Homo sapiens: one gene and its partners. The protein of the gene in region 1 purifies or fractionates together with the protein of each later gene. This does not show direct contact. Each region holds a gene or a part of one and is shown in the gene's direction. Other genes may lie near its edges.

Evidence for each region.
Region 2: the proteins of CDC42BPA (region 1) and CEP152 purify together in Homo sapiens (co-immunoprecipitation; one large-scale study listed by IntAct). This does not show direct contact.
Region 3: the proteins of CDC42BPA (region 1) and ARHGEF2 purify together in Homo sapiens (affinity purification with mass spectrometry, with the first as the bait; one large-scale study listed by BioGRID). This does not show direct contact.

Annotation. Positions count from the first base shown.
Region 1 is NC_000001.11:227,028,390-227,032,042, reverse strand, and holds part of CDC42BPA (serine/threonine-protein kinase MRCK alpha), read left to right. Parts: intron 1-528; coding exon 529-745; intron 746-1,572; coding exon 1,573-1,635; intron 1,636-2,792; coding exon 2,793-3,386; intron 3,387-3,653. UniProt on the Homo sapiens protein: Serine/threonine-protein kinase which is an important downstream effector of CDC42 and plays a role in the regulation of cytoskeleton reorganization and cell migration. Regulates actin cytoskeletal reorganization via phosphorylation of PPP1R12C and MYL9/MLC2.
Region 2 is NC_000015.10:48,738,017-48,741,669, reverse strand, and holds part of CEP152 (centrosomal protein of 152 kDa), read left to right. Parts: coding exon 1-69; intron 70-2,381; coding exon 2,382-3,421; 3' UTR 3,422-3,653. UniProt on the Homo sapiens protein: Necessary for centrosome duplication; the function also seems to involve CEP63, CDK5RAP2 and WDR62 through a stepwise assembled complex at the centrosome that recruits CDK2 required for centriole duplication.
Region 3 is NC_000001.11:155,971,895-155,975,547, reverse strand, and holds part of ARHGEF2 (rho guanine nucleotide exchange factor 2), read left to right. Parts: intron 1-3,653. UniProt on the Homo sapiens protein: Activates Rho-GTPases by promoting the exchange of GDP for GTP.

The DNA of each region.
Region 1 (3,653 bases):
AAGTCAGTATGGTGTGGCGCTTAAGAGCATGGGCACAAGATCCCAGACTTGTAGTTGTATGTCCTTGGAGAAATGATTTAATTTCTTTGCATCACCATTTTTTTCATATATAAAATAAGGATATAATGACAGTACATCCTAAATCATGACGATGTTAACAGAGTTAAATGAGTTAATACTTGTAAAGTGCTTAGATCTACCTGGTGCTCAGTATTTACTCAATAAATGTCAGTTGTTGTTGTTGTTGTTATATATTTAATGCCTCTTTAGTGATAGTGTTCTGGCACTTTTACAGAAGGAAAATGAAAATGATACTAACATTTCAAATGGTGTCTGCCACCTTTGCTTTGTCATGTATTCTAGTGCTAAAGGTAGTTATTCTGATTAGGAATAGCTGAACTCCAGTAATGGTATCATTTAATGAATGCTTATTTTATTGGTGAGTGCTAAGCAAACTAACATAATCATGAAACTAGCATAAAGGGTGTCTGTTTTCTAATATCATGAATATTGATTAAATTGTTCTAGGTCACAGCTTCCCAGCTCTCAGCATCTAATAACAAATGTTCAATCCTGATGCTAGCAGACACTGAGAATGAGAAGAATAAGTGGGTGGGAGTGCTGAGTGAATTGCACAAGATTTTGAAGAAAAACAAATTCAGAGACCGCTCAGTCTATGTTCCCAAAGAGGCTTATGACAGCACTCTACCCCTCATTAAAACAACCCAGGCAGCCGCAATCATAGGTATGAATTTATAACATTTATCATATTATTATCATTGTTTACTAATCTACCTTGAGAACAGGGATTGGCTTTCATCTAGGAATCCCCAGTGTCCAACATACTGTGCATCATATCATAAATGCTCAGTACATGTTTACTGAATGAATGAGACCTATATCAGATCTTTGTTTTTCAGTAAACAGGAGTATAAATACACTTTCAAAGTGCCTTTTTTTTCCTGAAAAAACAACAGTGCTAAGCATTAGCCTACTAATCTATTTTCTGCTTGTGTGATTTAGAACAAGTTAGTTTCTTAGAGTTTAATATATAAAATACAGATGGTAATTACCTTGCTGAGGTTATTGGGAAGTTTAAATAAGATGGAATACATAACACAGAGTGCCCTGCATAAGAAAGAAATCCCCTTAACAAATGGCAGTTTCTGTGTCTGGAGGTTTAAATTTTTGCTGTATTCCTGTGTATGCATCTAACTCTTTTGTTACTTTCCATAAATACTGAAAAGTTCAATGAGTATGGTTCAAATGCCATTCACAATTTTTACCTCCCAAAACAATAAGTGTAGAACAACTTAGGTTTTTCATTTTGTTTCATCATTTATTAAACATTTACTTCTTTTTGTAAGTATTGATATGGATTATTCTTTAATAATTGTTCTATTTTAGAAGACATGAGAGATTTACCAGTATAATCTGAAAGGAAATAGTGTAAACTGTTATTGTAATTCATTTTATTTCCATTTTTTGCACCAAATGTTCTTATCATCTGGTTTATTAGCATTACATGGTTTTTTTCCTAATAAAAATCTTTCACATTCATGTCTTACATAGATCATGAAAGAATTGCTTTGGGAAACGAAGAAGGGTTATTTGTTGTACATGTCACCAAAGATGGTAAGAGAAAACTTTTTTTTTTTGGAGTAATTTTAAATCGTGTTAAAAAAATTTAAACTGTAGATTCTAAATTCTACAAAGAGCAGGATTTGCTCTTATTTATCCTGCGACTAAAATTTTCCAGACCTAATTTGACGTTTATAAATTAAAAGATTATTTTTAAATTTCTATAATCCCCCTGAGGTTTAAAACTTCAAATATGTATTGTCTTTCTTGTATCATTTTATTTAACAGTTCTGTACGAACTCAGATTGCATTTCTTTTTTTTTTTTTGGAGACAGAGTTTCACTCTTGCTGCCCAGGCTGGAGTGCAGTGGCACGAACTCGGCTCATTGCAGCCTCCGCCTCCTGGGTTCAAGAGATTCTCCTGCCTCAGCCTCCCAGTAGCTGGGATTACAGGCATGCACCACCACGCCCGGCTAATTTTGTATTTTTAGTAGAGATGAGGTTTCTCCATGTTGGCCAGGTTGGTCTCGAACTCCCAACCTCAGGTGATCCACCCGCCTTGGCCTCCCAAAGTGCTGAGATTATAAGCATGAGCCACTGCGCCCAGCCCAGATTGCATTTCTAAAGATGGAACATGAAAAAAAATATATACAACTTGATTTTCACATTGTTCTATTAGTACCAGAAGAGGCAACAGCTATTAAAATGTGTTTGTTTGGAGGTTTTTCTTCTAGGGAAAAACTAAATGCTGGGTGAAATAAAGAGAAACCAATATAACTTGGTATTCATAAATACAGTATTCTAAGTTTTATCTTTATGTCAACTTAGATCATGGGAAAACAATGCATTGTTAGCCATATAAAAACTTCTGAAAAATAAGTTCTCTGTTTTTAAAAATGGGAATCCTATGGTGACGTTCCCTAGAATTTAGTGCCAGTAGAAAAGTTTCCTTGAAGATTTGGCATACTTTTACACAAGAATCCTTTGGGGTTTGCCTTGGCTGCCAGAAATCTCAGGACTCAAATTTAATACGTACTATAGGTGAGTTAAATTATCTTATGATGGGTTGGATAATCTTTTTTTCCTGTGACTTCTGATGTCTTATTCTTCCGTATGTGCATCTGTAAGTTGACTTACATCCTTTTGAGTATAATTGGGATATGATTAATCAATAAAACTATATTTTGATTTATTATTCTTTCTGTGTTTAGAAATTATTAGAGTTGGTGACAATAAGAAGATTCATCAGATTGAACTCATTCCAAATGATCAGCTTGTTGCTGTGATCTCAGGACGAAATCGTCATGTACGACTTTTTCCTATGTCAGCATTGGATGGGCGAGAGACCGATTTTTACAAGCTGTCAGAAACTAAAGGGTGTCAAACCGTAACTTCTGGAAAGGTGCGCCATGGAGCTCTCACATGCCTGTGTGTGGCTATGAAAAGGCAGGTCCTCTGTTATGAACTATTTCAGAGCAAGACCCGTCACAGAAAATTTAAAGAAATTCAAGTCCCATATAATGTCCAGTGGATGGCAATCTTCAGTGAACAACTCTGTGTGGGATTCCAGTCAGGATTTCTAAGATACCCCTTGAATGGAGAAGGAAATCCATACAGTATGCTCCATTCAAATGACCATACACTATCATTTATTGCACATCAACCAATGGATGCTATCTGCGCAGTTGAGATCTCCAGTAAAGAATATCTGCTGTGTTTTAACAGCATTGGGATATACACTGACTGCCAGGGCCGAAGATCTAGACAACAGGAATTGATGTGGCCAGCAAATCCTTCCTCTTGTTGTAAGATTCTCTTTCTTACGGCTGTCTTATCTTTATATCTCTTCTTCCTTTTCCCTTCTACTTCGTCTCCCAAATGTTGTCATTGTTGATAACAGTTTTTTAAAAAAGTCATTCTTAATGCTTTTCCTCAGTATTGATTATGTTGTTGATGTAAAAACCATATGTAGTTAGGCCTGGGCAAACAGGGCCAGCATTAGCATGCACGTAATTTAAACAAAACATCTTTCTGTGGAATATTTCACTAAGATGGATTTTTTACCCCACATC
Region 2 (3,653 bases), on another chromosome or scaffold:
TTGCTACAATGGCAAAATTACTGGAAACACCTATTTCTAGTAAGTCCCAAAGCAAAACTACACAGTCAGGTATGTCAAAGTGAGTCGCCAAATGGTTTTTCTATCTTTTCTTCTTTAGCTATTTAATATTTTCAGTATGAAGAAGGCAGGGAAGGTAAGGAGTGAGAGTTAATTTGTGAAGTTTTGTATGTTTTACTTAAACTAGAAGTTTACGCAAAAAGAGTACACAGTTTCCAATTTAAGTAGGCAGACTGAGCATGCCCATCAGTTTCCTATTGCTGCTTCCATCCCTCGAAATGATAGAAAAGATTTTAAACAGCAAATAAAGAATGAGAAAAAGAAGAAATTATAAGTGGGTTTTAAAAAGTTGCAGTGGGCCAGGCATCATGGCTCACACCTGTAATCCCAGCACTTTGGGAGGCTGAGGTGGGAGGATCCCTTGATCCCAGGAATTTGAGGTTGCAGTAAGCTATGATTGTGCCACTGTACTCCAGCCTGGGTGACAGAGTGAGGCCCTGTCTCAAAAAAAAAAAAAAAAAGTTTGCAGTGGATAGACCAGAAGCTACAAGAAATCCCTGAGAGAAAGAAGACAGTATAGGATGGAAGATGGAAACCTCAGTTCAAAACCACCGGGAGATGACTATTGCAATTAGGAGCAATATCAAAACTGTTCCACATATGAGGGTGATATGTTCCAGGAGAAATAGAGGGCCTAGGGGATATGAATGGGGTAATTAGTTGGTGTTCTAAACCAACAGCAACCAGGTGGGGTTAATCCTCTCTTTATTTCTTCTTCTCCCCTCCTTTCCCCAACCTCAATATTGAGCTGGGCAACAACAACAGGAACAAAGAATCTGGGAGCAGGGCAGTGCTCCAGGTGGCTAGCCATATCAAGCAGGAACTGGGAGCCGACTTGCCTTGGGAGGCTGAGATGGGAGGATCACTTGAGTCCGGGAGGTCAAGGCTGCAGTGAGCTGTGATCGCACCACTGCACTCCAGCCTGGGAAACAGAGCAGACCCTGTCTCAAAAAAAAAAAAAAAAAAAAAAAAAAAAGTAAGAGTAACCAACAAAAACATAGAACGTATAACTTTAAAACTGGTAAAGGAAAAACTTGGAAAAAAACATTTTCAATCTAACAAAATCAGGAAAGAGGAAAAAAACCTAGAGAGCGTGGGTAAGTAGGACATAATAGTAGTTTGAAACATCAACAATCACACTAAATATAAGTAGGTTAAACTCATATAAGTTATTAAAAGACCACAACTTTCAAATAGGGTTTTTAAAAATGTGGAAATTTGCTATTTTTACAAGAAGAACATCTAAAATTAAAAATCAGGGGATGGAGAATGATATACCAAGCAAATGCAGTGTTGATATTAGATAAATTATAGAGGTAAATAAAAGATTAGATAAATTAGAGTTAGCATTAAAAGGGACAAAGCTGATAGTTCATAATGATAATGGAATAGTCTCCCAAGAAACTGTAATTGTTTTCTTTCTGTAGATCATACAGCTTTATATAAAGCAAGAGCTGATAGAAATACATGAAAAAGACTGGTAAATTCCCAATCACACTGAGAGATTTTTAACATATCAGTGGGGAAATGGGGTTCTTGAACCTCTGGAAAACTTGAAGCTGAGATTGTTCAGGGGTCCATGAGTCTGATGTTGGTAAACATTCCTCATGTACAAGCCAAAGATTATTTGTATAAATTTTGGAATGGTGATGTGAACCTTAGGTATGAAAAGGCAGTAACATATAACAAGAAAATAATTTTCTAGATCTGGGGCAACAGTGTGCAAATAATGTCCCCAGTAGAGAAGCAAATCCTTTTCATGGACTCTAGGGCTTGCTACTCTGAGATACAATGCCTCTAATTTCATGCTATGTGGCTGCTTTGTCTTTGATCAGATTTAGTGTCTTAGGTAATTAAATCAGAAAGTCTATTTAGCTATTCTAGAAGTGTATGTGTAGGTATTGGGTGGGTGGGGTTCTTTGAGCGAACTTGTCAGAAACTCCATTCTTAACATCAGAATCAGGGCAGGATTGAAAACATTGTGGCTGGATCTTGAAATTGCTATAACATCTATTGCAGAAAATGATAGGTCAGATGGATAGCAATAATAATTATATATCAGATCTTAGTAACAAAATTACCAAGCTTTATCTAGTGGATATATGTAAAAGAATATTTTTAAATGTCCAGCATTGATGTATTTTCTTTAAGAATTATTACAGTATATAAGCATTCTTTGGGAATACAGTATAAAAACATAAATTTTTTCTTATTTTTAATTTTTTTTATTTTTTTGTTCAAGGATGAATCTTCCCTTTAAATATTAATTTTCTCTTAATTTCGTGTTTCCTTGCACATAATAGCACTGCCCCTAACTTCAGAGATGCTGATTGCAGTTAAAAAATCAAAAAGAAATGATGTGAATCAGAAAATACCATGTTGTATTGAAAGCAAATCAAATAGTGTAAACACCATCACCAGAACTCTGTGCGAACAAGCTCCCAAGAGGAGGGCAGCTTGTAACTTACAAAGGCTGTTAGAGAACTCAGAGCATCAGAGCATAAAGCATGTGGGATCCAAAGAGACACATTTGGAATTCCAGTTTGGGGATGGTAGTTGCAAGCACCTAAACAGTTTGCCAAGGAATGTTTCTCCTGAGTTTGTTCCTTGTGAAGGTGAAGGAGGCTTTGGTTTGCACAAGAAGAAAGACCTACTCAGTGATAATGGTTCTGAATCACTTCCGCATTCAGCTGCATACCCCTTTCTTGGAACCTTAGGAAATAAACCCTCACCTAGATGTACCCCTGGTCCTTCTGAATCAGGATGCATGCATATAACCTTTCGCGATTCTAATGAAAGACTTGGTTTAAAAGTATATAAATGCAATCCACTAATGGAAAGTGAAAATGCTGCATCTGAGAAAAGTCAAGGTTTGGATGTTCAGGAACCTCCAGTAAAAGATGGAGGGGACCTTAGTGACTGCTTGGGCTGGCCTTCCAGCAGTGCAACCTTATCCTTTGACAGTCGTGAAGCATCATTTGTACATGGTAGGCCACAAGGAACTTTGGAAATACCAAGTGAATCTGTTAAATCCAAACAGTTTTCACCATCCGGTTATCTTTCAGATACAGAGGAAAGTAATATGATTTGTCAAACAATGAAATGTCAGCGTTATCAAACTCCATACCTGTCAGAAGAAACCACGTATTTGGAGCCAGGAAAGATCAGTGTGAATTGTGGACACCCATCTCGTCATAAGGCTGATAGATTAAAGTCAGATTTCAAAAAACTGAGCAGTACATTACCATCTTCAGTGTGTCAGCAGCCTTCAAGAAAATTAATTGTTCCGCTATCTAGCCAACAAGATAGTGGCTTTGATAGCCCATTTGTTAATCTAGACTAATTATGGTACAGTATTTAAGAAGAATCATTAATATATTAACAAAAATGGAAGGGAAGACCTCATACTGAAAAAAATTGTGAGCCCTGCCTCTTTTGAGATGTTTTAATAACATCTGTTATATAAGTAAAGCATTCTTCTAAAATTGCTTGAGATATTTATGTTGCCTTAATATTCCAAAGGCCTGATGGTGTATGTATAATCTGCTTTTGTGTGGTGCTTATTTTTGGTTTCT
Region 3 (3,653 bases), about 71 Mb from region 1:
GAGGCTTCTGGGGACATAGACAAAAATTCTAGGGGTCGTGGAGGTTAGGGAGAGAGTTGAGGGGGAGGGGAGAAGTGAGGATAGGGGAAGGGAGTCTAAAGCTTAGGGAAGTCACTGAGTGACTTGCAGGAGGTTAGATGGGGCCTAGAGAAGGACCTACTGAGGCCGACCAGAGGAGTTACAGTGGGGTCTGATCTTAGCCACTCTGGCTGTGGAATTTGACCTTGGAATCAAGGAGGGGACAGATGTGAATGTGTGCATCCCCTGTGTGCATGTTACTGGTGTGCTGGTGTGTCAGTGTGTCTGTCTGCCTGCCTGCCCTCCTATTCTGTACCCAGATGCTCTGGGCTACTGTTTTGAACAGTGGTCAGCAAAGTAGGGGGTTCGTGCTCTCTGGCCACGAGGAAGTAGCTTCATCCTTAGCTTCAGTTTCTGGTTGGAAATATCATCTAGGAGCTGAGTGAGCGGATTGGTTAGGATTTCTGAAGCTGGTAAGAGAAAAGGCTGAGAGGAGCTGGCTGGACCCTTCCGGGTTTGTTTATGTCTCTTTGGGAGAGGGTGGGGGTGGGGTTGCAGGCAGCAGCTGCCCCCCTCCCAACCCAGCCGGCCTGCCTTGTGCCAGGAGGGCAGGGAGTCCTGGCACAGCTATTGTTCACTTGCACAAATGCCTGTCTGTTTGCATCGCTTACCCCCCCTCTCTTTCTGCTTGTCTCTCTCTCCTGGCCTGACAGGTGTGGCCGCGTAGGGGGCAGGCTGGGTTCCAGGATGCTTGGGTCTCAGGGTCCCTAACCTGATTTATTCCTTGTGGCCCTTAGCAATCCTCTTCCGTTTCACCCGTACCCACTCCCATTGCCAGTGTCTCATCTTCATTCACTAAGCAAGCATTTATTAAGTGCCTTTGTGTGTGCAGTGATGTCTTTCTGTGTTGTTTCTGGCTTTGGCATTAGTGTTTCCACTTGGCTGCCTTCCCCTCTGCCTCCTGTCTTCATCTTGTCCCTGGAAGCTCATAAAGGAGCAGGGCCCGGCTGAGACCACCCCAAGCCCTCTTCTCAGTCCCACCCCCAGCAATCCCTCACCTCTTCATTTCCCAGCCCTATAGCTCCTCCTCCAGGACTCAGTGCCCTTCATAGCCAACGGCGCCTCTGCTGTACAGGGGCTGAGCCACAGGTGACTCGAATCCTGGTGGAATGCTCCACAGGCTCTCCGGTCACTATTACAGAGGGTGTGGACAGAGGTGTCACCATCTTGGGGAAGGGGCTGCTGCCAGGTACAGCTGGAGGAGAGGTGATTCTGAGTACTCTGTGACTCTCCCAGAAGTCTTGATTTGGACATACCTGAGAGAGAAGCAAAGGCAGCTGAGAGAGCTGGGCACAGTGGCTCGCACCTGTAATCCTAGCATTTTGGAAGACCAAGGCAGCTGGATCGCATGAGCTCAGGAATTTGAGACAAGCCTGGGCAACATAGTGAGACCTCATCTCTACAAAAACATTAAGTTTTTAAAATCTATTATTAAAAAAAAAAAAGTCAGATGAGAGCTTAGGGCTTGCTTGGAGAAGCTCTACCTCGCCTGGGTGGATCTGCCTGGCCTTGCTGCCTGCTGGGAGCCCAGGAAGCCAAAGTCCTAGCCTTGGCATTGCCTTCCCCTCCATGTACGTCACTGTTTCCTCATCCCTTATTCTGGGAGACAAAGTGGAGAGAAGAGGGGAGACTGTGTTTGCCTTTGAGCTTTTCAGTAGAGATCCACAATGCCCTCTGCCATTGCTCCCATCTTTCTTTCTTTTTTCTTTTCTTTTTTTTTTTTTGAGACAGAGTCTCGCTCTGTCACCCAGGCTGGAGTGCAGTGGCATGATCTTGGCTCACTGCAACCTCCACCTCCTGCGTTCAAGCAATTCTCCTGCCTCAGCCTCCTGAGTAGTTGGGATTACAGGTGCCCACCACCATACCCGGCCAATTTTTGTATTTTTAGTAGAGATGGGGTTTTGCCATGTTGGCCAGGCTGGTCTCAAACTCCTGATCTCAAGTGATCTGCCCGCCTCGGCCTCTCAAAGTGTTAGGATTATAGGCATGAGCCACTGCGCTCGGCCTGGCCCTGTCTTTCTTTCCCAAAAGTGACTGAGATCTGGGATGACAGTGGAAGGAAGTTTGGGGTTGGTCTTCTGACTTCCAGAGGAAACCCTCAGGGTCTAAACTCAAAGGAAATAGGAGAGAATGGCTTAGAGCCCTTCAGGAGGAGGGAGAAAAGAGAAACAAGAAGAGACAGAAGGTTCTAAAGCTCTGATAAGGAAGGAAGAGGGTTTCCAGAATAGGGGCCAGGGTGCTACTGAGACCCCATGTCTTGGTGTCCATACATCCTTCCTTGCTTCTTTGCTTCCTTCCTTTTCTTTCATTTTGAGACATGTATTGGGTGCCTATTGTATACCAGGTATTGTGCTAAGGGCTTTCATATTCTTTATTTATCCTTGATGTAGCAGTAGTGTGGATGAAGGTGTGTAGCAAGAAGAACTTCCCATGGGATTTGTGAGAAAGAGACAGAATGACTCTAGGTCTGAGCGTGGTGGCTCACACCTATAATTCTAGCACTTTGGGGAGGCTGGGGCAGGAGGATCACTTGATCCTAGGAGTTCGAGACCAGCCTGGGCAACATAGCAAGACGCTGTCTCTACAAAAAAAATTTAAAAATTAGGTGAGCATCATGATGCATGCCTGTGGTCCCAGCTATTTGGAGGGCTGAGGTGGAAGGATCACTTGAGCCCGGGAGGTCAAGGCTGCGGTGAGCCATGATCATGCCAATGTACTCCAGTCCAGGCAACAGAGTGAGACCCTGTCTCAAAAAAAAAAAGAAAAAAAAAAGTATCTAGATGCTGGAGAGCAAAGGACTGAACCAAGCAGGAAGGGCCTCTGAGCACTGGGGTGGGTGTTATGGATTGTGGAGTAATGGGCCCTTTTTCTTGGTGCATAGGTTGGGTCTTGGAGGTAAAGGGCTGTCCTACTTGGGCGTGGGTAAATGGGAGACCAATGTGATTATCTTAAGAATACCTGGAAAAGAGTAGGACAAAGAACCAAACAAGCCCACTCACTCCACCTCTGGAGCAGGCACCCCTGGTAAGCAGGCCCTATGTCCTTCCATCCTCAGAAGCCTGAGCCCTGGGGCGGGCACAGGCAACCTCCGGGACAATAGCACTAGGCAGTGCCAGGGTCGCTTGCTGCTGGGCAGTGCCCATGCTGGGATGTGCTGCTGCTGTGGCTGCTGCCCGCTGCTGGCCCACCTAGAGCAGGGGTCACTTCGAGAGAGGGTGAGTGTTGGGAGGTGGAGGAGGCAGGGCCCAGAGTACCAGGGCTGTCTGTGGAGCATTGATGCCAGAGAGAGGAAGGGCCACTAGAGACCCTGTTCTCTGGCTGCCCCAGTCTTCTCCCTCCCTTTGCCACTCCATCTGAGCTGGTCAGACAGATGAGTGTTTGTGGATGCCACAGGGGGAGGGTGGAGGGCAAAGGACAGAGGTCAGGTGTGGAAGAGAGTACTCGTAGCAGCACTGGGGCAGAGCTGCAGCACTGCCCATTCTGGAGTGACCCTGGTCCAGCCATGTTGTTTTTTTTAATACTATTTTCAGCTTGCTTGCTTTTACTTATGTGTGTATATATATATATGTATATAT